Homo sapiens: one gene and its partners. The protein of the gene in region 3 purifies or fractionates together with the protein of the main gene of each other region. This does not show direct contact. Each region holds a gene or a part of one and is shown on either strand. Other genes may lie near its edges. The genes, in order: ACAD11, CDC42BPA, KCTD17 and PLD1.

Evidence for each region.
Region 1: the proteins of KCTD17 (region 3) and ACAD11 purify together in Homo sapiens (affinity purification with mass spectrometry; 4 studies listed by BioGRID and IntAct, with this or other methods). This does not show direct contact.
Region 2: the proteins of KCTD17 (region 3) and CDC42BPA purify together in Homo sapiens (affinity purification with mass spectrometry; 4 studies listed by BioGRID and IntAct, with this or other methods). This does not show direct contact.
Region 4: the proteins of KCTD17 (region 3) and PLD1 purify together in Homo sapiens (affinity purification with mass spectrometry; 4 studies listed by BioGRID and IntAct, with this or other methods). This does not show direct contact.

The regions. Positions count from the first base shown.
Region 1 is NC_000003.12:132,635,381-132,643,194, forward strand, and holds part of ACAD11 (acyl-CoA dehydrogenase family member 11), read right to left. Parts: intron 7,423-7,814; coding exon 7,297-7,422; intron 6,754-7,296; coding exon 6,592-6,753; intron 4,277-6,591; coding exon 4,112-4,276; intron 1-4,111. UniProt on the Homo sapiens protein: Acyl-CoA dehydrogenase, that exhibits maximal activity towards saturated C22-CoA.
Region 2 is NC_000001.11:227,314,902-227,323,336, reverse strand, and holds the start of CDC42BPA (serine/threonine-protein kinase MRCK alpha), read left to right. Parts: upstream 1-4,844; 5' UTR 4,845-6,154; coding exon 6,155-6,332; intron 6,333-8,435. UniProt on the Homo sapiens protein: Serine/threonine-protein kinase which is an important downstream effector of CDC42 and plays a role in the regulation of cytoskeleton reorganization and cell migration. Regulates actin cytoskeletal reorganization via phosphorylation of PPP1R12C and MYL9/MLC2.
Region 3 is NC_000022.11:37,054,211-37,062,024, forward strand, and holds part of KCTD17 (BTB/POZ domain-containing protein KCTD17), read left to right. Parts: intron 1-2,109; coding exon 2,110-2,201; intron 2,202-3,187; coding exon 3,188-3,283; intron 3,284-5,102; coding exon 5,103-5,228; intron 5,229-6,612; coding exon 6,613-6,712; intron 6,713-6,893; coding exon 6,894-6,965; coding exon of another isoform or gene 6,966-7,328; coding exon 7,329-7,419; coding exon of another isoform or gene 7,420-7,582; exon of another isoform or gene 7,583-7,814. UniProt on the Homo sapiens protein: Substrate-adapter for CUL3-RING ubiquitin ligase complexes which mediates the ubiquitination and subsequent proteasomal degradation of TCHP, a protein involved in ciliogenesis down-regulation.
Region 4 is NC_000003.12:171,807,026-171,814,771, forward strand, and holds the start of PLD1 (phospholipase D1), read right to left. Parts: upstream 3,459-7,746; 5' UTR 3,374-3,458; intron 1-3,373. UniProt on the Homo sapiens protein: Function as phospholipase selective for phosphatidylcholine. Implicated as a critical step in numerous cellular pathways, including signal transduction, membrane trafficking, and the regulation of mitosis.

The DNA of each region.
Region 1 (7,814 bases), on a different chromosome or scaffold from region 3:
CCCATTTGGGTAATATGAGTTACTGGGTTTCATGCCTCCATATAACTGTGTGTGCTTGCACTCCCTTGCTCCTCTGGCAAACTTACACACATTCTTGTAGCTTTGTGTGGAAATATGGGCTTTGGAATCAGACAGGCCTGTATTCAGACCCTAGCTCTACCATTTGCTGGCTGTATAACTCTGGACAAGTTAGTTAACCTCTCTAATCCTCAATTTTCTCAGCCATAATATACACCTCTTACACAGGGTTAGTTTGAAGATTAAATGGGCGGGTAGCACATATAGTTCATGTATGAGTTTCTAGCAAAGAACCTGGCACACAACAGATGGCCAATATGTATTTATTTGATGAATATGTTCAGAGCTTGGCATATATAGCAAGGCAATCAAAACTTTGCCATTGTTACTGTGGAAAAAAATTGATCACTCCTTTCTCTATGACTTTATAAGAGCTTTTATTGTGGTTATATTATACTATAAATTTATAATATTATAAGTATTATAAATTACTATACTAGCTAGATTTGTGAAACTACTGAAGAGGATGGATGCATTTTTCTCTTACATCATTCTATTTGTTATCTATGCTTTTAACATCCAAAGTAAAGATGAGGCACTTACTTATGCTATAAATGATTACTTTTCTTTTTTAATACAATTGGGAAACTTCTCTGGAGTTACTTTTCAGAATATCTGAACCATTTTTGGGGTAAAAACACAAAGCTATAAAACAACAGCCAGTGAGAAAAGCTGATGGCTCATCAAATTGCATAAATTAGTGCAAATTAATTAGCAATAGCTAATTAGAGTCCTGTTGATGCCTGTTTGTGTTGAGAGTTATTAAAAGCTCAACATAACTTTTAGTGGTTGATCTGGACATTTACTAGTTCGTCTTACTGCTGCTAGGGAACTTATTAGTAAAATTATTTTTGATAGTTTTTCTGAAACCTCAGCTCAACAGAAAGCTTTTAGTTTTTTAAATTATCTTCTTTATAAAGAGATTCATTTTATGTATACTTTTTACACCATTGAATTTTATTAATATGTATGTGTATTGGCATTCGAAACAAACAAAAAATACATACAATCCAACAGAACAAACAGTAGATGAAGAAGGCAGGGAAGAAAATAATAGAATTTGTAATGAAAAGATGAAGCTAGGAGTAAGGTTATTACACATAATTGAATGTGATAGGACATGCATAGTTGTTAGTGTGGGTAGTAAAATTTGCTTTGAATTTTATAGCGGGTAAAATAAAGTGTGAAGCATGGTCAGTCACAATCTTTATAGTGTATGCAGGTCAAAAACAAACCAGCTGCTCAAGAGGGACAAATTTTCTTGGCAATGAGGCTAAAGAAAAATATCACCCATCAATCTGCATACAGGTGATATTGTGTAGCGGACGAAAATGTCTTCAACAATATAAAGAGAACTTTGAGGGGCATGGTGTAATTCCTAGAAAGCAGGCTATGCTGGAAAATGACTGAAAGGACAAAGATGAGTTAGGTAGAAGACAAGACCACATGCTGAGAGTGGGAACCGAGATGGGACAAGAAATGTGAGAGTTTGAGAAGAAGGGAAAAGATTTAGAAAAGCCATTTTTTAAATGTCACAGGTTTTACTAAGAGATGAAGTTACAGCCTAGATAAAATCATGTGGCATAAAAATGTCCCAGATCCAATTAACCTTACTTCACGACTTTATTCTGCAGCAAAAATATGAGGATTCAAGTTTAGGGCTAGAAACTGGTTAAAGTCAAGGGGTGATGGACATCCCCTGTAGGGTTATTAGAAAAAATAAAAAGTAAAATAATAATAATAATGATGATATAAAGTCAGGGTGGGAAGATTCTAGAATAATAAGTAACCTAAGGTCAGGACACTTTATAATTCTTACATTACTTGCATACATCTATAGTCAAAAAATTATTAATGAAATTGATACTAAAGGTAGTTTTTGAGATGACTGATTATGACCATGTGGCTTATGTAGGATAAGAAGTCAAGTGAAGTCATGAAGGGCTTATGGATTCTAAATTAACAGCAATCAAATTTGCAGTGTCTCAGGGAAGATGCAGAGAAATAAAAGAACAGAAGGTAAAGAGGGTGAGGTCAAAAATAAGGGGTTTCAATTTCTAGATCACTGAAGTTGACAAGTTCCAATGGATGTTTCTAATTAAATATATTTTTCAAGTTGAAATGACAATATGCAGATTTTACATTAAACTCCAAGATCTTAAACATTTCTCTACTGGTAAAATTTATATTTGGAAAATCAACATTTTCCAGGAAAACTGGATTTCTTTTCAACATTGCAGTGAGCCTATTGTGCTACTGAAATACTTGCCCAAACATGCTTTAAATACTTTGTAAATAAGTAACAGAAAATAATTTCGTTTTGCCATATCCTGTAGTTTCCTTTACTGGCTTACTCCACACATTCCTGGAAGGTTTGTCATTTAAAATTGTTTATTCTTCTTTCTTAATTGTTGTGTTTTCTGATGACAAAAATTAAACATGCTGTTGTTTTAAAAATAAAAACCAAAAAACATCAAACCCTAAACATTACAGAAATGTACAATTATGTCTCCTATAATTCTATCCCCTACAACCACTGTTTAGGTTTTCGTACATATTATGAAGCATTTACTTATACCCTAATATTTTTCTGAAGAAGCTTGACAAGTAGTCTAAGAAAAGTCAGAGAGAAAAATGAAGGGGAAAAAATGGAAAAATGAGGGTACCTGAAATAAACTGAGCATCATTGATGTGCCAGGTACCAGCTAGTTGCTCCACATTGACTGTTTCATTTTAGCTGCCCAGCAACTCAGAATTTTTTTTTTCAATTTTAAAAGGTACACAATGTCAATTTCCTGGCTTTGATAATGTACCATAGTTGTATAATATCCATTTTGCAGAATTTGGATGATGGATACACAGGACTTCTCTGTACTATAACACTGTTACAACTTTTTTGGGGACTCTAATTATTTCAAAACAAAAAGTTAAAATAAAAATAGAGGCACAGAGAGAGATTGAATAACATGCTTTAAGTTCACACTGCTAGGGAATGAAAGTTAAGCATAAATTTATGAGATGGAAATAGTTGCTAGTGAATAATTAACTAAAATTAATCCCTTCAACATAGATTCATCAGAATCATATAAGCACCTGCAATATAAAGATGAATAAGATACAGTCATTGTTTTAAAGGAACTCCAAGTCTAGTGGGTTCTAATTTGTTATCTACTATAGAGACTCAATATTATGTAGACTCGACTAAAATATTAATTAAATGACACAGATCAAATACAGGCCAGATCCTGCTATGTTTTCAGGCATATGCTTTTATAATTATCTAGATTATAAATTAGCATATTTAATTTTTCTAATCTCAGGGTAGATAATTAACAAGGTTAGAATTCAGAATTCATCAGTGCCACTAGCTCTTCCTGCCCTAAAACATCTTAGCATTCTAAGAAACTAATGAACCCAGAAAATCCTCCTCTCAGAAGCAGGATTCATTCCTACTATACTGTAATCCTAGGCCTCATTGTAGGTGCTCAGTGGAGGATTACAGCTTTCATTTGTTTATACTCTTTATAAAGAATACAGTATGCACATTTACATTGAGCAAGGTTATATTAATCTCATGTAATTCTTTTGAAGCCTCAAGAAGCTTTTGGAATTCTCTATTCTCAGAGTTTATAATAAACAAATAATAAATTCTTCATGAGATAGGGCTAAAAACCCCAAAGAAGTATAAATGAACCAGAAAAAACAGCAAGAACATGGATAAGCTAAATATTGTAACTAGTAGATGAAAACTTATTTGAAGAAAACAGCATCATGCATGTAAAATTCCCAAATCCTTTTAAGCAGTAAACCAGATACCACTTGGGATTAGAACCAGTCTCAAAGGTAGGCAGCTAACTTATGCTGGAAAATCTGCAGGACTCCTTTCTAAAAATTTTGAGTGGTGACGACAGTCCTGAGCTGTAGGGGAACAGGGAGTGGGTTGGGCTCCCTCAGTGCTCTGGGGGGAGCATTTACTTAGTACTGTGTCACAAAACAGACCTACTCAATTAATTGTAAACATAGCTAACTGTACCTCTTTAGGGTGGAAAACTATGTTATCTAGTCTGAAATCTCCATGAATCAAATTCTCTTCATTGTCATTATCGGGCAAGTTCTTCATTAGCCACTCCGATAGCTGTTGCATGGCAGGGATGTCCTGATGAGCTGCAGCTTGATATTGCTTTGTCCAGGTTGATACCTAAAGACATATAAATAAGAAAAATGGTAAAGCTGAAACTGGAATGTAGGATCTAGCAATTCTAAAATTAAAACAAAATTCAAATGCTGTTTTACTCCTAAATACTTAAGACCCATGCTGGTGATACTCCTGTCATCCTAAAACACTCAAATCAGCCTAAACCTTAAACATTTAAGTCTCTTTTCCATATAGTTCCATTTTACTTACCTAGTTTTTTATCAAGAGAAAAATACTGGCCTAGGGATCAAGAGATATGGGTTCTAGTCTTTATTCAGCAACTACTTTGTAGAAGAAAAAAAAAGAATGCATACAAACACACACACGCACACACACACTCTCTCTCACACACACACACACACACACAAATATATAGGCATAGATAATCTCTGGAAAGGGTCACGAGAAATAAGTAACCCCTGAAAAAGGGAATATGGGGACTAGAAGAAAAAAGAAGACATTTACTTTTTTTTTTTTTGAGACAGAGTCTCGCTCTGTTGCCCAGGCTGGAGTGCTACCTCCACCTCCCAGGTTCAAGTGATTCTCCTGCCTCAGCCTCCTAAGTAGCTGGGATTACAGATGCATACCACCACACCCAGCTAATTTTTGTATTTTTAGTAGAGACGGAGTTTCACCATATTGGTCAAGCTGGTCTCGAACTCCTGACTTCGTGATCCGCCTGCCTTGGCCTTCCAAAGTCCTGGGATTACAAGCTTCAGCCACCGCGCCCAGCCTACTTTTCATTTTAATACTCTTTCTTATTACCCACAGAATTTTCTAAATATTTTACAGGTATGAATAGTGTAAAGATCTTCTATTGTTCTTAGAATTGAATGCAAACAAATCAACTTACTCGTAAAGTCCTCCAACAGGTGGGACCATATTGTTTATTTGCTTTTTTATCTCCATTTCCCGAGGTATCTTTGCTCAACTTAGTGCAATAGAGCAAAGACCTTTACTTGGTCTTATCTAGTCATATCAACCTGGGTTTAAATTATATCTAAGCCACTTACTTGTGTATTACTTGATTGATGCAAGCCTCCCTTTCTTCATCTGCAAAATGGGAGTAATAATACCTATATCTTAGAGTTGTTGTAAAGATCAAAAAAGAGAGGCCGACAACTCACTCTGCCATGTAGGACCTAGCATATAGTGAGTACACTCTAAACTTTAGTTCCCTTTTCTCTTCCTTAACCCCCACAAAATGATATGCTTACAAAGGAAAGCAGCCCCATATATATCTAGTATTGCTTTCCTTTAATTTAAAATGATCTCCATCACTCCAAATTTTATCTTTCCTTAAATACTCATTATAAGATATCTCTCCCAGGAAGCTTTCTCTATATAAGCAAGGGCATCCCAACTTCCACCCTTTGAATCATGGTGAGTATCAAACAATTTACCACTAGATTTTACACTCTTTTATACCATTTTCAGGTTTCGTGAATGACATGCATGTACAGGTCTCTCAAAAATGACCATAAGTTCCTGTGGGGAAGAACCTATTGTATATTTTTCTTGATATTTAACACAGTACTCAGCAGGTATTAAACACACAGTCAAGCTTAATAAATGTCTGCTAGTCCAATTGAGAAAGAAAAAACTGTAAGCCGGGCATGGTGGCTCACGCCTGTAATTCCAGCACTTTGGGAGGCTGAGGCGGGCGGATCACGAGGTCAGGAGATTGAGACCATCCTGGCTAACACGGTGAAACCCCATGTCTACTAAAAATACAAAAAAATTAGCAGGGCGTGATGGCGGGAGCCTGTAGTCCCAGCTGCTCGGGAGGCTGAGGTAGGAGAATGGCGTGAACCTGGGAGGTGGAGCTTGCAGTGAGCAGAGATTGCACCACTGCACTCCAGCCTGGGCAACAGAGGGAGACTCTGTCTCAAAATGATGATGATGATGAAGAAGAAGAAGAAGAAGAAGAAGAAGAAGAAGAAGAAGAAGAGGAGGAAGAAGAGGAGGAAGAAGAGGAGGAAGAAGAGGAAGAAGAGGAGGAAGAAGAGGAGGAAGAAGAGGAAGAGGAAGAGGAAGAGGAAGAGGAAGAAGAAGAAGAAGAAGAAGAAGAAGAAGAAAAAACTGTATAGTTAAAAGTATTGGAAAATTAAGAGTCTAAAACAGAAGATTTTGCTGAACAAAACCTAATATAAAAACATAAGATAATTTTATACTAAAAACTAGTCATTCTGAAGGACAATGTTAAAAGTCATGGCCAAGCTTCAGAAAACTATACAATAATAGCTTTTTTTGTTGACTAATAAGGTATATTATTTACAAGAACTTGAAAAAAATAGCTATTAATGTGGATGCATTACCTGTCTTTTGCAGTACCCAGCACCTATACCATATCCTTCCAGCTGCAGTGACTGTATATTCAAGGAATGTAACTGAGCCAATGTTTCTACCGTGGCCACATATATGGCTGAACGTTCTGCTGGGCTAAGTCCAGGAATTGTTAAATCACGGAAGATTCGACCCTATGGAAGTGATTACAACAGATTATTTAAATGTGTATAATCAATACTTTGTCGAATATACTAGAAAAACATTCATTTGTGAAACATATTTAATATTAGAGTATACATGCCAAAGGGAAAATAAAAGGATATGCCAAGATGAATATAAACATCAAAACTACTCTCAACTATTTTACAGAAAAAATTTAAAACACATTTTGAATTTATTGTTCTTAATGGCTTGACCTATGTGGAGTCTGTTTTCCCTGCTACCTTATGGACAATTTGGTTATTGCCATTACAGATAGCTCTTTACTGACACCTAGAGGAAAATTTAAGAATAAGTCAATACCCCCTAATTACTAAATTTGTTTCTTGTCTATTCCATCCCTCCCTTTGTAAGTGCTCAAATTTGAACAAAATTGTAAACCTTTGCAATGCAATCTAATTACCTAAAATGTTAAATAACAAACTATATCATTTATTAAGTATCATAATAAAACATCTTAATTAACTTCATAATTAAAAGTAAAAGCAACAAAATAAGATTAAGTGTTAATTTACCTGCACATGTTCCATTACGTAAAATTCTGTTCCAATGACAGAAGTATCACTGCAGTACAGTATAGGCTTGGGAACGGGGAATCCAATTGAAAACAAGGCTTTCTGGACTTTAAATTCTCTATCAATCTAAATAGGATGATGAATCATTAAAAATCAGAGAAACTGATTTAATTGTAATTAAATTTAATAACTACTTATGAGCTAATCTTAAGGCTAGAAAACAACTGTAAAACAGTATCAACACAAACTCCAGAGGATAATAGTAATAACTTCCCTAATAGTAATCTTGGTGTAATCACTATGATTATAAATTAGACCACTACTAAAAAATGTAATTTAATTAGGATAAGAAGATGAGCACCTGCATGAGACTTAATCCTGGCTCTGATAATGTGAAGGCAATAGTTACTGTTCACAATATTTCACATATTTTATCATAAAACATCCCTTTTTCCACAGCAGTTCCCTGGCTGGCTGCTCGCTCTTTCATGTCTTCCAAGGAAGCTCAGGTAAGTCTC
Region 2 (8,435 bases), on a different chromosome or scaffold from region 3:
GACCGAAGGTTCACACTGGCTTAATTGGTTTGGTTTTGTCACCACACGTTGCAATACAGTCTTTATCAAATGTTTTCTGCTGATAGAATTTATGAAAGAATGCCACTTATCTTTGCAGTGTTCAAATTTGCTAAGTAGCTCTAATAGCCGACAATATCTGTATTATAATGTTTGATTCTAAACATATTTTGGAAAGTCCCATTTATAGTAGAGCTTTAGTGAGAGATTTTAAATGATAAATTTAAAGATAGGGCAAGATGGACAAGATCCATTGACAAGCAAGTGGAAACTATTAGTCTGTATACCTAAGTAAACCTGCCCTAATGAGGGTTGGATTGTTTTTTAACTTCTTGAGGGACAAAACAACAACAGCAACAACCAAAACAAAACAAAACAAAAAACAAATTTGAAAAGGAAAAGGTAAAAACTTCTCCTATGTTTAAATAATGCCACGTCAAAATCTACTTAATGGTTGTTCAGAGATAAAACATTTGTTTTATTGATTTTATTATAGTTTCGGTTAAACTATAACTGTGTTGATTATATGTGTGCAAATTCTGCCTGTTTGCTCTTGCATTCATTTCTTACCCATTGCCTGCTCTACTCTGTCTTTGGGGACCAGTCATGCAGCCTCCCTTTCAGAGGCTCCGTGTTAGCTTCAAATGACAGGAGATTTGTGGTAAGAGGATTCTCCTCCCCTCTCTCTGACTATGGCAGCCTCCCCTGTAGCATTTGCATCTCTTCTGTGGCTCCATCTCCCACCAGCCCTGGTTTTAGCTTCCACCAGCCTAGGGGTGGGAATAGCTTCCTGCTGCTGCCAAACTGGGTTACCTGACTTGCCCTGCATTTCCTCAGCTCTTCCACCATCCATGGAACCATGTGTCAGAATTAAGGTTTCTCTGGTTTTGGTCGGGCACAGTGGCTCACGCCTGTAATCCCAGCATTTGAGGCGGGAGGATCATTTGAGGTCAGGAGTTCAAGACCAGCCTGGCCAACATAGCCCTGTCACTACTAAAAATACAAGAAAATTAGCCAGATGTGGGCCAGGCGCGGTGGCTCACACCTGTAATCCCAGCACTTTGGGAGGCTGAGGCGGGCAGATCACAAGGTCAGGAGATCGAGACCATCCTGGCTAACACAGTGAAACCGCGTCTCTACTAAAAATACAAAAACTTAGCCAGGTGTGGTAGGGGGTGCCTGCAGTCCCAGCTACTTGGGAGGCTGCAGCAGGAGAATGGTGTGAACCCGGGAAGCAGAGCTTGCAGTGAGCTGAGATTGTGCCACTGCATTCCAGCCTGGGCAACAGAGCAAGACTTGTCTCAAAAAAAAAAAAAAAAAGAAAAGAAAATTAGCTGGATGTGATGGCATGTGCCTGTAGTCCCAGCTATTTGGGAGGCTGAGGCAGGAGAATCGCTTGAATCAGGGAGATGGAGGTTACAGTGAGCATGTGATCACGCCACTGCACTCCAGCCTGGGAGACAGAGTGAGACTTTGTCTCAAAAAAAAAGCTTTCTCTGGTTTAAATAAATAGGTGATTTCTGCTTTTTTGGTTGAACTCTGATATAATCATGTGCGTAGTTCTTTCTTTTGCCCTCATATCAACTTCTAATGCCCAAATATGTGAATTAACAACACATCCCACTTCTTCCTTGTTACAATAGGAAGGAAAAGTTGAGTTTATAGAACCTGCAGATTTTTTAGACCTCACTTGCTTTGTGATTAAAGCCATGGGCACTGGCATGAGACAGGCCTGGTGTTGACTTGTAGCTCCTGTGTCAATTACTAGTTGTGTGATCTTTCACAAGTTAAGATCTCTAAGCCTCAGCTTCTTCCATCGTCTGTGATATAGAGGTAATTTCCCTACTTCATATGGTTATGATGATTGAATAAAACATGAGCTCAAACTACCCAGGACAGTGTTTACAGGTTGTTAAGTGTTCTGTAAAGGAAGCAATTATTAATCAGAAAGTTTCTTTTTTATATACAAGCCCTTGCAGTTGATCTCACTCATGTCAGGAGCCTGACATGAAGACAGGACAGGCATTTGCTGGCATTTTATCCTGGGAGGGTACTAAGCCAAGTCATTCATTTGCAGGGTCAGGATGTGGCTAGGCTAAAAGGAGATGTGGTAAAACATCCTCAGTGTTGCTATACATTAAGCCCTACTGTGGCACGCACCTTGTTTTTGGCTCCGTTCTCCAGCAATGACCCTATAGTTATTCTGAAGTTAGATATACCAAGGTGAGAGTGAGGCTGACTGTTATAAATATTAATTGGTGGATTAATTCTCCTGCTTTTAGCCCTGAATTGGAGGATTAGTTGAAGAGAGCTTGTATTGGGGACTAGGCTTAATGATTTCTGTCCTGCCTTCTTCTTTCCACCTTCCTACCTTCTTGTCTTCTCCTGTCCTCTTTCTTTTCTGAATGGTCAGATTAATTCCCAGCATCTTCATAAAACATTCTCTGATTATTTCAAACAAATTGGGTGTTTGCAGTGGTATACATCTAATCTCCAGGCCCCCAAGCAGAATTTCACAAAGAAGACCTCCTCCAGACTATTTTTCCCCAAAGAATACCCTGCGAGGCAGCCTGTGGCACTCTTGTTTTGCAGGAACACTTCAAGCACTGTACAGCTGCTGGGCTGTGCCTTTCTTTGGCTTAAGACCGGTTTCATTAACAAGCATGTTCACACTTCAACCGGAACATTTAAAATAACACCCGCACAATGTGTTTAGTGTCTAGTTAATTATTAAGTCTCTGAGCTTGAATTATTCAAGCAAAATTGATTGGGTTCAAGCTCCTTCCTTCTCTTTGTGTGTGTGTTTTTTAAAATAAAAATAAATTCTGCTCTCTACTTTCTAAATAATGTGGAAAGGGTTATTTAGCAACCATCAATACCCTGGACTGTGGGTGGTACCCAAGCGCTAATAGAATAGGTAAAGAACTGACAGCTTGACTCTTTTGTTAAAAAAAAAAAAAGTATCTACATCTCATATACTTCCATTGTCAATTAGCATTTAGTGAGACCTAACATGTTTTAGGTTCTCCTTTAAACTTCTTTCTAGTTATTTGTAAGTTGGAAAAGCAGGTATCTTGGAGCCATTTCTTTAGTTAACCGTACTTGAAAAAGCAGAAGAAATTGCTTCCTTCTTTGCTACCGCATCTTATGGTCAAATGAAACTGTTAAAATTGGCTTCACCATTAAAATCCATGTTGTTGAAGAATGTTTGTTGAACTGAAAAAATGTCCATAATATATTGCTAATTGCAAGCAAGAGGCTATAAAACTCTTTTATTATGTATCATTTTTGTTAAAGTGCATAGGAAAAAGACTTGAATAATAAACACCAAAATATTGCTTATTATCTGTGTTAGGATTAAACTTTTCTACTACTTTTAGAATTAGACAACACACACCCATATAAAGATGTCATGGCTGGAAATGACTGACCTTTTGTTTGAATCTAAGTATCATTCATGTCAAGACCGCATTGAAAATAATGCTGTTCTTAAGCCAGGCAAGTGTAGACGTTGTAGATTTCATAAAAGATTCACACTATTTCATGAATCACAACTTGAATCGACTTCTGTTAGCCTTCATTTTACGTCTAGGCCCTCATTTCTAATTCTTCCTCAGCTTCCATATTATCAAGATGTAAGATGCAATTGTGGACATGAACATAGAAACACAACCGCCTCACAGGTGTGGGGAAGGAATATAAAATAATTGTATTTTAGAGAACGACCATAAAGGAGATGGCAATTTTGAGAGAAAGTAACAGAACTGCAATGACCTAGTTTTGTGGTGTTAATTTAAATGTGGCATCTTCCATGAGAATTTTATAAAGGGAGCTCTCCTAAAACCGAGATTCACAAAAACCTGGAAGGGCCCTACAGGGATCAGGTGCCCTAGCTATTCAGCGATTTGCCTTTGCTTCCCTAATTCCTGCATTGTGCCACTGGGTTACAAGTGTGTGTGCGCATGCACACAGGGGTGTAGGTTTGATGACAGTGGTGAACTGCCTTGACTGCCTTCACAGGCTGAATCCCCCGCAGGCAGTAACCATGGCTAGGGAAAAACAGGCAGCCGCGAGGACAGTTCCGGAGGAGACAACACCAGGCTCCCGTAGGGAAACTTTTGGGAATGGAGATGGGGGATTCCATCCTTTGCGTGCAGACCCAAGACTTCGATGGTAGCTCGGACAAGTCTGTCATTGTTTTTGTCCTGGGAAATGACACACGAAGTGCTGTAATTAGACACCTAAGAAACGATTACTCTGGAGTGTGCGCGAACCGAATCTGGGGGGCCGGTGGGGAGCAGGTAAGGGGCTGAAAGGCACCGTCTCCTCCAGCTCTGTCGGAAGCCTAAAGCCCTCTGCTTCTGGGCGCCCTTAACAAACGCGCCAGACAGGTGATGTCTCCGAGGACGAGCAGGAGCCCCCCTTCGCGATCTGCACCAGAAGCCTCGGGGAGCCGGGGCCACGGCGCGGCGGTGGCGCAGTTCCCAGCCTGCGCCCAGTCCCGCCGCAGCTCCCGGCGCGGCCCGGTCATCCCGCCTCCATATGCTCCGCCACCGCCGCCCGGGCCTCCCTCAGCCCTCCCGCAGCTCCGCATTCCACGCTGCGGCAGCCGCAGCCTCGCCGCCTAGGCAGTCCACACCCCTCCCCTCGGGCTGGCGCAGCCACTCGGGCCCCGAGCCCGCGCCCCCTTGGGGGCCTCCGCTGGGCGCGCCGGCCGGACCCCGCCCGGCTTGGCCGCCGGCTGGGGCTGAGGCTCGGGCAGGGCGGGGGCGGGGAGTGGAGGGCGTGTGCGCGCGCGTGTGCCGGGGCCGGGGGGCCAGGCCGCCATATTGGATCCAGACTCGTCCGCAAGCCTCCGCCTCTGTGCGGCGGGACTGGAGGAGCCTCGCTGAGCCCAGGGCGCGAGCGCGAGAGGAGAGGGAAGGCGGGGGAGGGCTGGAAGGGAGAGGAAGGGAGTGGTTGGGAGCCGGGCTGCCGCAGCCTCTAGTCTCCTCAGCCGCGGAAGCGACCCCTCCTCCTGCGCCGGGCCGCCTCCCTCCTCGCTGTGGAAAGATGCCCTTAGCCCAGGGGTGTGAAGAAGGGGGAGAAGTAGCTGCCAGAGCCGCCCGCGCCGCCGCCGCAGCTGCTGCTGCTTGTGTCCTTTGAATTCAGAGAAGCACCCCCCCGCCTGGGGCGTCGGGAGCCTCCGGCGCGGCGGCCCGGTGCGGGTGTCGGGGAGACCGGGCTCTCTGCCCGGCGCGGCGCGGCGCGGCTCGGCCCACGAGCGACCACCGACATGGAGTGGGCTCGGGCGGCCAAGTAGCCGCTTCTCCGGAGCCCGGTGCCAGTGCCGCCCGCAGCCCGCCTTCCACCCCCGGCCGCGCCGCCGGTCAGGCCCTAGGGTGAAGCCGGGAGGAAAATGAAGAGTTTTCACCGGAATCCGTTGAAAATAGGACTGACTGCAAAGCCTTAAAGAAAGAAGGACCTCGGGAGGAGAAACGAAAAGCCGCCTCCGGGCAAGACTTGGCGTGCTCCGAGCCGAGGGGCTGCTTCAGGGACCTCGCCCCCTCCCTTTCCCGCTGGAGAAATTGCCGCTGATGCATTATCCAAGTGGTGGTTGGGAGGATTTGCAGCAACATTTTTGGTTTTCCCTCCCCCTTCTATGCATTCTGTTTTTTTCCTCCCTTTTCTGTTTTTCTTCTTCCCGGGAAGTGAATTGCTGATGCAAATCGGACTTTATTCATTAATGATGCAACCGGATTCGTTTCAGGATTACGTTGCACGAGTTGAATTTTGAATGAAGGAGAAGAGTTTTTTTTTTTTTTTTTAAAGAAGTGTTGACTCTCTAGTTCGTTGTACTTTTAATTATTATTTTATTTAAATATACGACTTAATTGTATTCTTTTAAAAATGCATTAAGTATATATTTTATGGTAATTTACCCTCAAAATATATGTATATGGGTGAAATTGAAGACGCTTCAGTTAAGTGAGGTTACTGGTGTGTTGGATGTTTAATTCAGCACCAGCATTGCATGACAGTTGTTTGAATAACAAGTGGTTTATTTTTAAAACCATACCTTTTAAAATTTAGGTTCAGATAATAGTAAAAGTCATCATAATAATTTAAAGGAAAACCAGCAGAAATCGAAGCAAACATGTCTGGAGAAGTGCGTTTGAGGCAGTTGGAGCAGTTTATTTTGGACGGGCCCGCTCAGACCAATGGGCAGTGCTTCAGTGTGGAGACATTACTGGATATACTCATCTGCCTTTATGATGAATGCAATAATTCTCCATTGAGAAGAGAGAAGAACATTCTCGAATACCTAGAATGGGGTAAGTTTGTAATTTTTAAAGAAACTGTTAATCTTTAGCTGGTCATTATGATTTAATTGGTATAGAGAGTTATGAGTAAACTCTACTCCGTTCAAAGAAAAAATACAATAAAAAAACAGACACTAGTTATTCAAGATTTTCCGCTAGTTTTTGGTAAATATTTTCCCAGGAGTAGAATTGTGCTGCTCAATTGTTGCCTTGATTTAAGGCCTAGCTAATGTGGAACTTGGCTATGAAGAACTTATGTTTTTAGGTCAACAGTAAGAGATTTTAAATCAATTCTGTGATGGGCAAAAGTGGATTATTGGTTACAGTTGCCTAATACATGGCACTATAATAGTCCTTCATTTGAAAGGTATTTATTGGTGGAAACATTCAGACTATGGAAATTATTCTCAAAATAGGAGGAGATATTAAAATATCTGTGTTTGCCTTAGGTCAACAGAAAGCTGAAGGTGGTGATCAGTGGGTTTTATTTCATCTCTACATAGTACAAGGAAAGGAAACTGCTAAACATGGACTTTCCAAAAATTATGTTTGTAAGATTAAATGACATAGTTTAAAAATCTTGTGATAGTAGTTAGAGAATGTTTGGGGGCAGCTTCCACTTGAGAGTTAGATTTTACTCGAAAGTTAATTTAAATCTAAACTGGTTAGGTTTTTGGCTTCATTCTTCTAAATATAGATGTGATTTAGAAGACCTACTGTAGTGGAATAGATCAATGATGTGAGCAAACGCTCCATGACCTTCAAGCTTGAAGGCTTGGCTCAAGTTCTTCAGCGTCTGCTGTTACATACAGGGCACATTCTAAGGTCCAGAAGTTCACTGTTGCAATAAGCACGCATCGTCACCCAGATCTGTCTGTAGTAGTGGTACGTTGGCTTTTGAAGGATTTTGGCCAAATATGATTTTGTACCTTTGGAATACTAATCATTTTAGTTTGTTCTTATGCTAAGTTCTTATGCTAAAATATCTGTTCCCAAGTAAAACTTTATTTTCCTGAAGTAAAAGTCAAGTGCTGATTGTGTCTTTTTTTTTTTTTTTTTTTGGATTTGAAATTTATTCAAAGTTAGTTTCTCAGGTAAACCACTGATACAAGAATGTCTACACGTAATAACTTTAATTATTCAATTTGCCAGTATAAGAAGGTTTCTAGCAATGTGATGTCATAAGGTTTAAAAAAATATGTAAATGTGAATAGAATAACTTTTCAAAACAGACTGCCAGACTCATCCTGGGAATGTAAGAAATCTAAACCATCTTTCAAGTAACTTCTCACTTAAGAGTGAGACAATTTTGGCTTTGGTACTGGTTTTGTGAGTATACGTCTTTTATTTGTTGAATAAAGTATTTTGTAAAGCATATGTAGTTTTACATCCCATGTTTCACAAATTGAGAAATTCTGTAGTGTTAATTTTTTTTTTTAAGACTTAAAGGGTTTTGGTACTTTTAGAGTTGGAACTTGAGTTCTTAAGTTATGGTTCCTTAATGACACTCTAGTCTGTGATTTTTGTCATTTAGTATTCTTTCCTATCTGCGAAGCTATGGGAGAACTCTATGTACCAGTAGTAAATATAATTTTAAATGATTTATGATAAAGAGAAAACTGTATCCTCCATTGCCTTCTGATTATTAGAGTTTAGGTAAGTAGTTTTATGTTATGAGATATTTCGCTGTATTATCAGAATAATTTATATATATTTTCCATTAAATATGTTTTCTTGGATGTTGTTTCTTATATATGTATAAGAACACCTCATTTATGTATATTTTTATATAAGCCAAATATCAAATAAGTATTTGGCTGAGTATTATTTTTATTAGTATGGAAGTCTGGATAAAGAGTAAAAAGAAAGTTAAGAATGGAAAAGGCTGTCAGGAGTTGCGTAGTGAGTAGTGGTATTTGCTGTCTTTAAGTTATTTGAGAATTTAGGTTAAGAGTGCCAGTCTATTTAAGAATTGAAATAGATCAGATGTTCTTCATATGAATTGATAACTGCATTTTGGGGAAATGTCCTATTTTATTTTAATTACTTAACAATATGTGAAAATCAGTTAAGACTAAGAATATTTCCAAATTGTGAATTGACCTCAGTTCAGTG
Region 3 (7,814 bases):
AATCCCTAGGGGAGCACAGATACCATGGGCGTGGCCTAGGCTCAGGAGCAGGCCCCATCGGGAGGGAAGTAAACACCCCAGCTGCGTCGCAGCCAGCACCTGTTTACACGCCCTGCATTCTCAAAGCCCTGCTATTCCCACACCGTCAGACAGCGCTGTCTGGGGGCTAGAGGATCAGACAGGGTTATCTGGGGGCTAGGGGATCACACAGGGCTATCTGGGGGCTAGGAGATCACACAGGGCTATCCGGAGGCTAGGGGATCACACAGGGCTATCCGGGGGCTAGGGGATCACGCAGGGCTATCCGGGGGCTAGGGGATACACAGGGCTAGGGCTCATCCAGGGGATAGGGGATCTGAGAGGAGACTTACTAGCTGTGTGACACTGAGAAAGTGACCTAACCCCTCTGTGTCTGCATGCCCCCATCTGTGAAATGGGGGACCATAGCACCCACCTCACCGAGCTGTCATGAGGATAAAAGGAGTTAATAGTGCAGCATGGAGCTCAGTTCCTGGCCGGAGGATGTGGGATGCAGTGCTAGCTGTCTGTCACCTGCAGGGCTCCGCCCAGGGCACTGGGGATAATTCTCGTAATCAGGCAGCTGCACTCCCTGACCTCCTGCTCTGTGTTTGGTCCTGTGTGGGCACCGGGGACAGAGGGCAGATCAGAAATGTGAGCCCCATCTTAGCCATTTCAGGCTGCAATCATGAAGTAACATAGATTGGGTGGCTTATGAAAATCAGAAATTTATTTCTCTTGGTCCTAGAGGCTAGAAACCCGAGATCGGGGCACTGTGGCAGGTTCTGGTGAGGACTTTCTTCCGGATTGCAGACTGCTGACTTCTCGTTGTGTCCTCACATGGCAGAAAGAGAGGGAGCTAGCCCTCGCCCGCCCCTTCTCGAGAGCTTGTTTGGAGGTTCTAGCAGGGGAGCGCAGCTACTCACATACCCTTGACCAAAGTCCGGTCCTCCTCTATCGGGGGTGGTCGCCCCCTTCGATGGAGCTCACAGCTTCGGGAGGGACACACCTGGAGCAGTGAGGGAGGAAGGGGACACACATCTAGCCAGCCAGATCAGCTAAATCAACCCTGGTGATCAGTGGAGTGACAGATGTCCCCGCCAGATCGCCCTCACATCCAATTAGCCTTTCTTATAAGAAGACTGATCCTACCCTGGGGACTCTACCCCCATGATCTCATTACCTCCCCTCCTAATCCCATCACAGTTTTCAGCAGGTGGATTTTTGGGGAACACACACATTCTGCTCATAATGAGCTCTGTCCCCAGGGAGCCCAGAGGCCAGTCAAGGAAAGGGCCCAAAGGTCCCCTGCCTTCTGGGAGCCTAGGGGAGTCGAAACAGCTGCAAGCTCATCGCTTCACTGGTGGGCTGACTTCTTCATCTCCCAGATTAACTTAACTGTAAGATGGGGACAGTAATGCCTGCTCTCCTCATATCCCTGGACTTGTGATGAGCTCGTGCAGGGTGTTGCAAACTGTAAGGTGAGGCAGTTGGGGGAATGCATGGACACAAGGGTATGTGCTTACAGTGGGGAGACATGGGCTCTGGAGTCTGCAGCGCTTGAGTTCCCTCTGGCACTTACCAGCTGTGTGACCTTGGACAAGCTGCTTCTCTTTGGGAGCCTCAGTTTTCCCAGTTGTTCAATGCAGATGATGAAAGTACCTCCTTCTAGTTCTGAGAATTCAAAAATGTAATGCACCTGGCACTTAGAATGTGCTTAATAAATAGGAGCACATAATCAGGGGTCAGGCAAGGCCCTGCTCATGGTGACATTCTGGGGATCAGTCCCAATGACCCTGCTGTCTCTTGATAGCCCTAAAGCTGCCCCAGACGGTGGCCTGGCAGGTACCCCTGGGTCACCGCACTCAGCACAGCAGAGCTGTGTGGCAGCCCCTCAGCCCCTTCCACAGGAAGTGTGGGATCCAAGGAAAGAAATGCTCCCTCTTACTTGACCCCTGAACTCACAGACACTCAGCTCACCCTCAGGGCGGGTGATCAGAGCGAGAGGTGGGTTTCGGGGTGGAGGGAACAAGAGGAGAATGGGGCATGGAGGCAGAAGGAGTGACCTGGGATCTGTTCTGTCTGTGCCAGGGGTCCTGGAGGAAGCCGAGTTCTACAACATCGGCCCGCTGATCCGCATCATCAAAGACCGGATGGAAGAGAAGGACTACACGGTCACCCAGGTCGGGAGCAGGGGCAGCACACACGGCCAGGGCAGGGGCCAGTGGGGAGAGAGAGGCTGAGAGACGGGGCGGGAAGCAGAGGAGGTTGGGAGAGACAGGACCAGTGTTTGTCATGGGGAGGCCGAGCTGGCCTGTAAGGAGAGGCATGGTTGGGCTGACAGGCTGCCCAGCACAGCCCCAGACTCGGAGACGGACACTGGGGTTCAGTCCCTGTCTCAGCCCCATTTGCTGTGTGTTGGGCCAGGCTCGCCCTCTCCGGACCTTGATTTTCTCTTATGGGATAGAGAGGGGTGGGAATGGCACACCCATCCCTTCCTCATAGGCAGAAGGGGGTCAGTGTGGAGGTACAGGGTGCCCTGCAGAGGAAAATGCAGGATTAGCAAATTGTGCCTTTTGTGGCATCAGATGGTCGCCTGGTGGGCTCGGCACAGGCTGTTGGGGCTGGCGTTTGTGACCTTGGAGCCTGGGCCTCCCTGGCCAGTCTGCAGGAGGAGGGAAAGAGATTTTCCGCCTACTCTGGGGGATGTGTGAGGGTTGGGGGACAGGTAGTGAGGAACCATTTCTCAGGCCCAGGGGATTAAAGAGGGGAGGCTCCGTGTCTCCTTGAGGGCCTGACTCCTTGAGGGTGACCCAGAATGTTCCCTAAGCCCCACCCATGTTCTTTCTTGAATTACCCGTGTTCCGGTTCTGTCTCCTTCACCCTTGAGCTGGGTGACCTTGGGCAAGTAACTGGACCTCTCTGAGCCTCAATGGAAAGTCCCGTAATGCCTAGGATTCTTGGAAGGATTAAGTGAGATGGTGCCTGGTAAATGCCTGGTGAGGAGCAGGTGCTCAGAGCATGGCTGCCTCCCCCCAACCACCTCTTCTTTCTCTCCCTCTCTTCTTCTTTGGGTATGTTGCGGGGGTGGTGGCAGCAGGTGCTCATGCCCCTCCTGGGGTGCCTGGTGCTCCCACAGGTGCCCTCTATGTGACCCTTCTGCCCACAGGTCCCACCCAAGCACGTGTACCGCGTGCTGCAGTGCCAGGAGGAGGAGCTCACGCAAATGGTCTCCACCATGTCTGATGGCTGGCGCTTCGAGCAGGTGCGCTGGGGACAGGGGCGTGCCACCAGGACAACCCTGGGACCTCCTAGCCTCTGACCAAGCAGGCCCCTCCCTTCCTGCAGCCCCAGCCTTGGGTTCCCCACCACAGTCTCCCCCAACCCCAGGGTTCTTCTGAAATCAAATTAAACAAGGTTAGGAGAGACCACACTTGGTGGCAGGTTGACCGAGAGAGAGGATAGGAGCCCCAGTGGCCATAGGACAGCACGGGGTGTCCTTGTTGGTGGGAGTCCTCACAGCAACTGGGTGGTGATCTATCTGGTGGCATGAGTGAGTCTGTGGCCCCCGAAGGACAGCTCAGGTGCAAGGAGACCAGATCCACATAGGTGAGTGGAGTCCACATTGAGTCAGTACCTCTTAGAACTCAGAGTCAGCATCATGCGATCATAGCAGTTCCTGACACAGTTTTCAGGGTCTCCGCAGGGGACATGCCCAGTGGCCAGCATTGCAACATGCAGGGGAGCCCAAAGCAGTGCCTTCCCATGAGGTCTTTATGGTGAACGGTGGTTCCTCCCAGTCCAGATGCAGTTTACCCATCGGGAGATCCTTATCCCGAGGGACTTTATCCCTAGTCATGCAGCTGACCTCCCACCTTTCAGGTTTCCAGAGGAGCAGAGCCAGAAAGTGAGCCCAGGGTCAAAAGTGCCTTTAGAGAAGGAGAGGGGGTTGGCTAGCCTTTCTCCACGCCCACCCACACGTTCCCTGGCACATGGAGACTGCAAGGCAGAAGGTCGGAGCCCCCAGGATGGCCTGGAGGGATGGAAGAATGGGCCTAGTGCAGAGCCAGAGGCCTGGCTTCACCTCTAGGCCTTGCCACAGACATGCCTGCCACCTTGGGCAAGTTACATCTCCTGTGCGGGACCCAGTTCCCTCATCGGTGAAGTGGGCTAACAGTACCTCCTCTGTAGGACTCTTGTGAGATTAGAAGGGCCATCAGTAAAGCTTACAGCCCTCCGTAGGACTCCCTATGTTGGCATTAGTGTCATGCAAATCATTAGAAATCCATATTGAAGTCTGCAACACTCAGAGAGGACTTGGGATCCCCGATGCCATTCCCTGCTCCACCCCTTCCTAGCTGTGAGGCCTTCAGCAGGCCTGAGATTCTCTTCAGGGTCCCTGAGAGCTGAATGAGACTCATCACCTGGAAGAACTTTCTTATTTCTTAGCCAGAAGGGCTCTGTGGGCGTGGTTATTCTAGGGACCCTGGAACAAGGGCAGGGCCACTCTGAGAGCCTCTGGGTGTCTTTGGCAATTGCACAGGCTCTCAGAGGCTGAGCAAGCAGGCCAGGGACCATTGGTCATTTGCCCTTTGGTCTCAGGAGTGGACCACCTGTCGTCCCACCTCTGCTTCCAGGAGTGAAGGGAATATTCTGTGGGGCTCCACCTTGCCAATGCCACCCTGCAACCTTGTCCTGGGGCTGTGTCAGCCACATCTGGAATGGGGGACAGCCGCCCTTTAGAGGCCTCCGCCTGCATTTAGAAAAGGGCCCCCTGGCTCTGGGGCTAGGCTGGAGGTGGTGGTGGGGACAGCGGTAATGCTGCCACCCTCCACCAGGGATCGGGCCAGCCAAGCCAGGCGGAGGGGCTGGTCCTGGGGCACAGACCACAGGCACAGGTTGCAAGGGGGAAGACTCCACCTTCCTGCCCAGAGGTGCCCTCTACAAACCCAGGAGTGGGCCCGACAAGCCGCAAGATTAGGACCTGAGCTGGTATCTTGATTTGAGTGCCGAGGTCTGTCGTATCCTGCCCCACGGCCCCCAACACCAACCTGCATTTTTCTCCCCATGCTCCGCCCCTCTAGCTGGTGAACATCGGCTCCTCCTACAACTACGGCAGCGAGGACCAGGCAGAGTTCCTGTGTGTGGTGTCCAAGGAGCTCCACAGCACCCCAAACGGGCTGAGCTCAGAGTCCAGCCGCAAAACCAAGGTGAGCCCACCCGCCTCAGCCTGTGTCCGGAGAAGTCTCCTGTCTCCCTCCACCCTCCCCGCCTGTCCCGCCCCTGCGCCTGCACCATCCCTCCACCTCTCTCCCGCCACCGCCCATGCACAACCCCATGCTCACAGCCACCGCCATCCATCCCATGCCACCTGCCGTTACCCAGGCCCAGGCTGGGAGCAGTGAAATGAGAGCATCCCCAGGGTGCAGCCGGCGTGGACTCAGAGGCTACATGAAGGGGGCCGCTTAGTGGCCACTGGGCACTGTGGCATGGACTAGGGGTCAGGGCACAGTGTGGCACTCTCTGTGTGACTTAGGACAGGGCTTGTCCTCTCCCAGCACCTTTGCTGCACTCTCTGAAGTGAGAGGGGAGGATCACATACTCTTTGTAGTGCCTTGGAGCCTGGAACTTCTGGGATCCCAAATGGCCGTTTATTCCCCAGGGACAGGTGCATGTCCCCAGCTGGCCTGAGCCAGGATGAGGAAGCCACCGCTGTAAATCCTGCCCCTTTCCCAGGCCCCCTCCTTGGCTGCTCTGCAGGATAGGGGCAGCCTGGTGGCTGCCAGTCCTGTGTGTCCGCCTGGCCTGTTGAGGCAGCCTCCTGAGAGCACCCTGGCAGCATCCACTGTACCACTGTGGGGAGAGGGCTGAGCGGGGGTCCTGCCATCCTGGACCCAGTGCTGTGGGAAGTCCCAAGGGCCTTCGCAGAGCCACAGAGCAGGCGTGAACCAGGCTGGGAAGAAGGCAGGCTGCTCCTCCTGGGGCCCAACCCCACACAGTGGAGGCTTACCTCTGGCTTCCTGTCTATCTGTCTGCCTCCCTGTCCTGCTGTGACGCACCCTGCCTGCCCACCCACCCCCACCACTGCCAGGGCTGACGCTGCCCTGCAAGGGTGCAGAGCGAGACTGCTCCTTCTGCCTCTTTGGGCCAAAGCCCCTGGACCTGGGGTGTCAGAGACTGGCTGGCATCCCAGATCTGGGTGGTGTCTGCCCTGGGGCTTCCTTGGCCACATTTCTACTGAGGAGCAGTCTTTCCAAACAAGGCCTTCCCAGGCACCCCTCAGGGATACCCCAGTCCCACACCCTCCCTGTTCTGCTTCATCCCCTCCCTCCAGCCTCGCTCTATGTAACAGCAGCCAGGCTGACCCCGGAGCATGCCCACAGCATCCCATCCTCAGCTGCTTTCCCCAGGCCCTCCCCAAGCTGCCCAGGGGACCGGAGAAGATGCCCCCAGCTTCTGTGGCTGGAGCCCTCCCCTCTCCTGAGGTCCCTTTCACCTTGCCTGAGACCGGGTCTTTGGGGATAGCCAGCAGGCCCTGGCCCCTCTGTTAGTGTCTCCACTCTTTCTTCCCTGGGTCCGCCGGCTGGTTCACAGAGCACGGAGGAGCAGCTGGAGGAGCAGCAGCAGCAGGAGGAGGAGGTGGAGGAGGTGGAGGTGGAACAGGTGCAGGTGGAGGCAGATGCACAGGAGAAAGGTGCAGCCAACCCCCAGGAGGATGATTGCTAAGCAAAGCCGGAGCCTCCCGCCCACTCCTTGCTGGAGCCAGCTGCAGAACCGGGGGCCCCGGGGCTGCTGGGGGGGCACCAGGGTTAGCTCAGCCACTTGCCTGGCGCCTCACCCGCATAACCATCCCTTCTCTCACTTTCTCTTTGCAGCCCAGTCATCTCAGGATCCCGCTAACCTTTTCTCCCTCCCACCACTGCCTCCTCCTCCGCTTCCCGCTGGAGGTCCTGCCTCATCTTCATCCACCTCTTCTTCCTCCTGGATCTCATCTGCACCCTGCCTCTTCCCTCTCTGCCCCTGTCCGGGTTTTCTCTCTGCCTGCTCACGCCTCCATCCCGGGTCTGCCCTGGTCCCAGCCTCCCGTGCCCTCCACCCAGGCCCCCTGGCCCTGCATCCCAGAGCGTCCTGCCTGCCGCCTCCTGCGCCCCTTCTGGTACCTCCTGCCTCCCAGCCTGGGGAGGAGGGGCGCAGCTGCACCTCCTCTGTGCCCACTAACCCTGCCGGGCACCTCTGAGACTGGGCCCTGGCTGCAGGCCCTGCCCCCCCTCCTCTCCTCCCGGCCTCCTCCTCACGTTTCCTCCTTGCAGGTTCCCGTCCGCACCCTCTCAGACCTGAGGCTGAGCTTGCAGTGAGGGCTTCTCCTCGGCCCCTCGCCCGCCCCCAGAGCTGCCATCCCTGGTTTGTAGCTTGGCGGTGCTGGAGGGAGGGGTGGAGCGAGGAGGGTGCTCATCTCTTGATCCTTGGACTTGAGCCGAGCTTTCGGCTGATTATCTCCACCCACCAAAGTTTCTCATCCGACCTTGGCCTTGGGGGTGAGGCTCTGAGAGGAGAAGAAAGTTAGGGAGTGGGAACTTTCCTACCAGCCCATCAGCACCAGAGCCAGGCTGGTGGGGAGGGAGGGACCGCTGAAGCCAGAGGCCCTGGCCAAGTCCCTGCACATCCAGGAGCTCCTGTGTCACTGCCTTGTGGCATCCCCTATTTCTGTGGGGATGGGGAGGACAGGCCACTTTTGGATACCCTTGGCCCATGAAGTGTCAGCCAGAGTGGCTTAAGGATTGCAGAGTGGCAGAAAA
Region 4 (7,746 bases), on a different chromosome or scaffold from region 3:
AGCTGGGTATGGTAGCTCATGCCTGTAATCCAGCACTTTGGGAAGCCGAAGTAGGAGGATTGCGGGAGCCCAGCTGTTCAAGACCAGCCCTAGCAACACAGTGAGACGCCATCTTTATAAAAATACAAACAAAACTGGCCAAGGATGGTGATGCGCACCTCTAGTTCCAGCTACTCAGAAACTGAGATGGGAGTATCACTTGAGCCTAGGAGGTCAAGGCTGTTGTGCCACTACACTCCAACCTGGGCAACAGAGTGAGACCCTGTCTCAAAAAAAAAAGTTTAAAAGGTGCATTTCTCTAAAGCTACGAGAAGGAACTCAAACCTTGCTTAGTGATAAAACTAAAGCCTGCAACACAACCATTATCATTAAAATGTTATTAAAACCCTGTAAGAAAGATGAAGAGTCTTGTGGATGGATGGTGGTGACGGTAGCACAACGATGTGAATGTATTTAATGCCACTACATGTACACTTAAAAATGGCTACAATGGTAAATTTTATGTTGTACATATTTTACCACAACAAAAGTGAAATTATAAGAGAAAAAAAATTTTTTAAAAAAACATCCTGTAAGAGAACATTTATACACTGTCGGTTGGAACGTAAATTAGTTCAGTCACTGTGGAAAGCAGTTGCAGATTTCTCAAAGAACTCAAAACGGAACTACCATTCAACCCAGCAGCCCCATTACTGGGTATATATCCAAAAGAAAATAAGTTGTTCTACCAAAAACACACACAAATTCATATGTTCACCACAGCACTAGTCACAATAGCAAAGACATGGAGTCAGCCTAGATGCCCATCAACTATGGACCGGATAAGAGAAAATGTGGTCCATATGCATCATAGAATACCATGCAGCCATAAAAAGTAACACAATCGTGTCCTTTGTAGAAACATGGATGCGGATGGAGGTCATTATCCTAAGCAAATTAATGCAGGAACAGAAAATCAAACATTGCATGTTTTCACTAATAAGTGGAAGGTAAACATTGGGTACTTATGGATATAGAGACGGCAACAATAGACACTGGGAACTACTAGACGTGGGAGGGAGGAAGGAGAGCAAAAGTTAAAAAATTATCAGGTACTATGCTCACCACCTGGGTGACGGGACCAGTTGTACCCCCAACCTCAGCTGCATGCTGTATGTCCATGTAACAAACCTGCACATGTACCCCCTGTATCTAAAATAAAATTTCAAATTATTAAAAAAAAAAAATAGGGTCGGGTGCAGTGGCTCACGCCTGTAATCCCAGCACTTTGGGAGGCCGAGGCGGGCGGATCACGAGGTCAGGAAATCGAGACCATCCTGGCTAACACGGTGAAACCCCGTCTCTACTAAAAATACAAAAAATCAACCGGGCGTGGCAGCAGGCGCCTGTTTTCCCAGCTACTCAGGAGGCTGAGGCAGGAGAATGGCGTGAACCCGGGAGGTGGAGCTTGCAGTGAGCCGAGATCGCGCCACTGCACTCCAGCCTGGGCGACAGAGCGAGACTCCGTCTCAAAAAATAATAATAATAATAATAATGACAGTCCTACTTTTCCTTTGTAACAAAAATAAAAGTTACCTATAAGAGTTAAAGGTAAATAAAATTTGTAATTTTAATTAAGAAACACTAAGTAAACATACAACTTCCAAGAAGCCGGGTTCCCCACTACCTGGTTATAAGTAAGTCTACAAACCTAAATGAGCATTGTACAGCGCTTACTATAGTTCATAATTATTCTGTCATCAGGGACAAACATTGTAAAGACACTTTTTCCTCAAAGCCTTAGCATTCAATTTTTTTTTTTTTTTTTTTTTTTTTTTGAGACAGATTCTTGCCCTGTCGCCCAGGCTGGCGTGCAATGGCTCCATCTCGGCTCACTGCAACCTCCGCCTCCCGGGTTCAAGCGATTCTCCTGCCTCAGCCTCCCGAGTGGCTGGGATTACAGGCGTGTGCCACCACGCCTGGCTAATTTTTGTATTTTTAGTAGAGGCGGGGTTTCACCATGTTGGCCAGGCTGGTCTCAAACTCCTGACCTCAGGTGATCTGCCCGCCTCAGCCTCCCAAAGTGCTGGGATTACAGGCGTGAGTCACCGCGCCCAGGCAGCACTCCAACTTTTTATATGGATTGTTAACTGTACTGGTTCTTGAGAAGCCAGACTGAGCGCTTATACAATTAGTCCAAAGATCCCCAAACAACATTTAAAGGCTGTCTACAAATTCAAGCTAAAAGACTGTGTACAAATTCATTTGTGTGTCACAAAACATTTAATACTGAAAGAGATTCTTATTCAAATAGGCAGTGTGTAAATGTGGGGTCTGTTAACAGTTCAAATTGCAGATTCCTTTCCTTCTTTAAGTTTTCATTGCACCACCACGAACTAAACCATTTAACATACCTCAGAGGTCTCTGGGTACCTAGTCTCTCAGAGGCCTTTGGAGGCCCACGAAGGCTTATCTTAACTAAAATTGGCAGGGCTGGCTGATAAAGTTAACGGAACTCCCCATTTTGGAGGCAGACTTAGTAATGGTCAAACGAAGAAACTGTTGTGGTCTGTTCTTAAAAAGCTACTAGTATTTAGTGCTTCACAGAGGAAGTAAAGAAAGCAATAATCCGAGATGAGGAGGAGCAAATACAGGCGTGGCGGTAGTTCAGGACTGAGTCTACAAGGGCGGTTCTCAAGGGCGTCACAAAATCCTATGGAAGGCTTGGAGGACGGCACTCCTGGATCTGAGCCCTACGTCCCAAACACCTTCAATCGTATTGTGAGGAAGAAGACCTTTTACACACTCCCTGCTGCTGGCCCCCGGCCCCCTCGCCCCACCTCCGAGTGGTCACATCACACGGCGGGAGCCGCGGTCAGCAGCTGTGATCACACCCCCAGGACCGTGCTCTGCGGGCTGGGCTCGAAGCCTTGGGACGCGGCACTTCCTGGTTGGTACGGGATGCCGGTCCCATCGCCCCCACCAGCCCAGTCATGCCACCGCGCACCCGAACCAAGGGCGCCCGGATGACCTGGGGACACCACACACACTGCACCCGAAGCCCTGTGGCGGCGAGGCGGTGCATCCTGCAGAGGACGCCTGGGCTTCAGCCTGAGCCTGCGCGGCTCTGCGCTCCAGGCAGCCGCCCGCGCGGCAAAAGTGCGTGCCAGAGTTGTCAGCTTTCACCCTGCAGGAATTCCACCCGAAGGCGTGCGAGGGAGGCCCTTGGGGATCGCTAGGGAGTCCGCCGCCGACTCACTCGCTGAAATCCCGTCCAAGTTGGGCGGGGAGCGGCCAGCTGCCCAGGTTGGGCGGAGGAGGGACGGAGGGCGAGGGCAGTGGAAACCCGGCTCCCACGGGCGCCCGGTGATCCGGGTCTCGGCGCGGCTCCTACCTGCAGGGCGAAGGGGCCGCTAGCACCTGCGCGTTGGCGGCGGACTCTCAGGGCTCGGGTGCCTCTGGCACAGCTGGAGCTCAGCGGGAGGGAGGGAGAGAGGGCGGGCCGGAGGGGGCTCTGCGCTGCGCGGCCGGCAGGAACTCTCCGCCCGGATTCGCCCCGGATTCGCAGGGGTGGAGCGAGGCGGTGCCAGGTCCCGGGGCGTCGCGGTGCCGGCTGGAGGCCCCAGCGGGGCAGGTCTCGCGACTGGGCCTCTGATCGCCCGCGTTCCTTGTTCTCTTTTCCCAAAGTTTCATAACTCGACCGCATCACCCTAGGGAATGCTCGCTATTAGGACCATTATCAGGTCCTCTCGAGCCGCCAAGGACCAGCCACCTTTCCCGGAGCTTTGCCTATGATATCTATTCTTCGACTACTGCGGATAGTAGCCACAACTGGTCCAACTTATAAGTAAGGAATCAGCAAATCAAACGGCTAAATAACTTGCCTGAGGTGACATAATTAAGAGACTGGAGCTTTGCTGGAGTCTTTATAAGCCTTCTTGCACCTCCTTAGGGAAGTGTTATCGCCAATTTACAGGTAAGGAAATGAAGGCTCAGAACCAGCCCGAGGTCACACAGCTTAGATGGAGGGGGACGGGAATTTGTGTCCCGATGTCTCTAAAACTGGTTATAATTCAGAAATCTTAGCATAAAATAATAAATTGGGAGCAAAACAGGGAAAAGACCCATTCCACCTATGGAACCGTTCAAACACGGCAATTTTGCTGTTTTCAGTCCACTTAGAATAAAGTCTTAAGAAAAAGAGAACCAGTTGTCATGTGGCTTGAATAGCAGCCCTTTGGGAATGTAATTTTGAATATAGGCCAGTTCCAACCTCATTACACGATATTGCATCCCGCCAAAGCCAGGGGAAGCAATGGCCTCCCCATGCACCAAACTGCTAATAACGTCAGCCACTTTAAAGCATTTAGTGGATATTACACAACTGCGACTGACCAAGTTACATAATGTCTTACTGCACACATGGCATTGCATGAAATGAAAAATATAATATACCAGTCCAAATTAGGGGAGGGGGGCCAAATTATAGTCTGGAACTCAGTTTTCCTGTAACCTACAGTTGCTCAGCCCTCCTTAGACCACATTTTTGTCTCTTGAGCACATCTTTTCCTAATGATAGAAGAGTCACACAGCCCTCACTCTTTCCTTGTTGACATAAATGATTGATGTCTTTTGAATCCTATGATACTGACAGATTTTTACAATTAAACACATGACTCTCTGAGCAGAGTATTGCCTAAGAGGAGTTTAGTAAGTTTCAGACAAGCATGTTACTGGAAGGCAGAATACCCTCTCTCCTCCCCTCTTTCTCAAGCTTTATTAGTCACAGATGGTCTGATAAGTCTTGTGCACACACGTAACTGCATTCTTACAAGCTTGTCTTTAGAAATTATAATGCTTTTGGTTGAGAAGCAGCAGTCTATAAAATTGCATCCCAAATTCTTAAGTGTCACTATGAAAACATTTGGCACTTGCCTCCAACAATAGGTCTTTCTACTAAATCTAATTAGAAATAAAATTATCAAGGCCAAGCGCAGTGGCTCACACCTGTAATCCCAACACTTTGGGAGGCCGAAGCGCGTTGATTACCTGAGGTCAGGAGCTCAAGACCAGTCTGGGCCACATGGCGAAACCCCGGCTCTACTAAAAATACAAAAATTAGCCGGAGGTGGAGGCAGGTTCCTGTAATCGAAGCTATTCGGGAGGCTGAGGCAGGAGGATTATTTGAACCTGGGAGGAGGAGGTTGCTGTGAGTTGAGATTGCACCACTGCATTCCAGCCTGGTGACACAGCAAGACTCTGTCTCAAAAAAAAAAAAGAAAGAAAGAAAGAAAGAAAATTATCTAAGTGCCCTTACAATAACTGAATTTCTGCCTCCCTGGGATAGAGGAATAAAATAGGAAATGCCATATGTTGTTTAGAGATGAACTGAAGCTTATGGACTCCCAAACATGAATTTTAGAAGTAGTATGATTTTGTATGTAATTATTTTATTTTCCTGAGAGATTTTGTGATTTTTCTTTCCAACTCTTTCATATCTTCAAAGATGTCAAGAAACAGTGACTAAGTAATCATGCTATACATTCATCTCAATATGCACTTGACATTTTTGTCAAAGTGGTATTTGAAATCCTTTTAATTGTTCTATTTTCTTCTGAGAATAAAAACATATATGTTCATTTTTATAATTTTAACATCTATATTTTAGAAAAAAAATTTTACATCTATGTTTTAGAGACCACAGAAAAACATTTTTAATTAAAATCACCTATAACTCCCACACACACACTCTCTATTAGCATTTAGTATATTTCCTTATTTTTTCTATGCCCAGAGGTTTGTTATAAAATTAACACCATGCTTTACAGAGTTTAGAATCTTCCTTATCTCACTAAGTATTTATAAATTGACTATTTTTTACTGTTATTAAACTTTCTTTAAGATATCATTTCTGTGGTTGAAGAATATTACAATCATTTATCAAATGTTTTAGGATATTTTCAGACTTTATTGCAGTTTACAAATCATGCTAGAATGAACACTACGTTGCATCATCTTTGTCAAGATCTCTACATCCTTAGGATAGATTCCTAAAAGTAGAAATACTGGATCAGCATTTAGAAACATTTTTAAGGTGCTGTGTGATGCTGCAAAAATACCCTCCAGTATTAAATATTGCCTTGCTTATAACCTGAAAATGTCACGAATCAAAATCATATCTTGTTTTAATCAACTTTTTTATAATCAGTAATGCTGAACACGATTTTTTCATGTTATTATTTGTACCATTTACTGAAAATGATCTATTCATGTCCATTACCTGTTCTTTTTCTATGGTAAATTAGTTTCTTGTTAATTTGCAATAATGCTTTCAACAGAAACAGAACTATTTTATCAAAGTGACATACAAATGGTGCTCCCCCAGATTTTCCCTTGTGGTACATTTGATACAAGCACTGCCATCCAGATCATCTAGTCATTTTGGGATACCAACATCTATCATCTTTTCTGACAGTTCCATTTTCTTATAGAAAATTACCTCTCCCCAAATAGGCATAGGCCTGGCAAGACAGCAATTTCAAGCAGTAACCTCAAAAGTGAAGGTCAGATCCTTCTTCCATATTCCCACCACCATTCCATTTACCCTATAGGCCAGGTGGACTGAATCTCAGGGGATGAGGGAGCCGGTGATCTTTGAGGTTGAGCTTATTGAACAGAGACAGAAGCGGCCCATCAGCAGCTTTACCCTGACCAGTAAAACCTAGGAAACTTTTACTTCCTAGGTTTTGTGGGTCTTTTTTTTAAATCTTTTTGTTGCTTCCTTAGTTCCTGCTGTTCTTCCACTTTGTCTTGATTCTGTGAGGCCCCGGTGCCCTTTTCCTTCAGAGAGCAAGTCTGCATTCATTATTTGTCCCCAATAATCCTCACTGACATAATCTGTATGACTTCTGTGCCCTTCAGTCCACCTGACAGTCTGTGGATTAGCAACTACTCATTTCATTCATTCATTCGCAAACATCTAATTGCTAATGTTAATTAACCAATGCACATGTTTCTCTAGAGACATGGAGTATAGAGCAAGATGTTGTATCCCCAGTTACCTGATGACATAAATCACTTCAACCACCATAACAGTGACTCACTGAAAGATCAGAACAGTGTCATTAGTGAGGCTCAAATTTTTTGTAAAAAAATGACAGTGGTTAACACCAAAAATCTCAAGAGAGAATGAGGAACACAGCAACACAGCAGATATTGCCAAGATGTGCAGAGCATTGTGTTTCTGTATCCTCATTTCAGCTTCCTGTGGCCCATTTGTATGTTTCATCATTTTTTCCAGCAACGGTCGACTTGTGAGCTGCCTAGCATGTGACTATAAAGGTCCCACACTGACGCCTACAGCTCCCCCTGCAATACCAAAGATAAGTCTTCTCAGTCACCCATAGCCAGTCCCTGTGAAGCTTTTTCATGTCCAACAAGCCCAAATGGATCCCACTCCCCCTATCTAATGACTTTTTTGAAATATTTCTGTATTTTCAATGTTTACATAACCTTTTTTTTTATACTTTAAGTTCTAGGGTACATGTGCACAACATGCAGTTTTGTTACATATGCATACATGTGCCGTGTTGGTGTGCTGCACCCATTAACTCATCATTTACATAAGGTATTTCTCCTAATGCTATCCCTCCCCCAGCCCCCCACCCCACGACAAGCTTCGGTGTGTGATATTCCCTGCCCTGGGTCCAAGTGTTCTCATTGTTCAGTTCCCACCTATGAGTGAGAACATGCGGTGTTTGGTTTTCT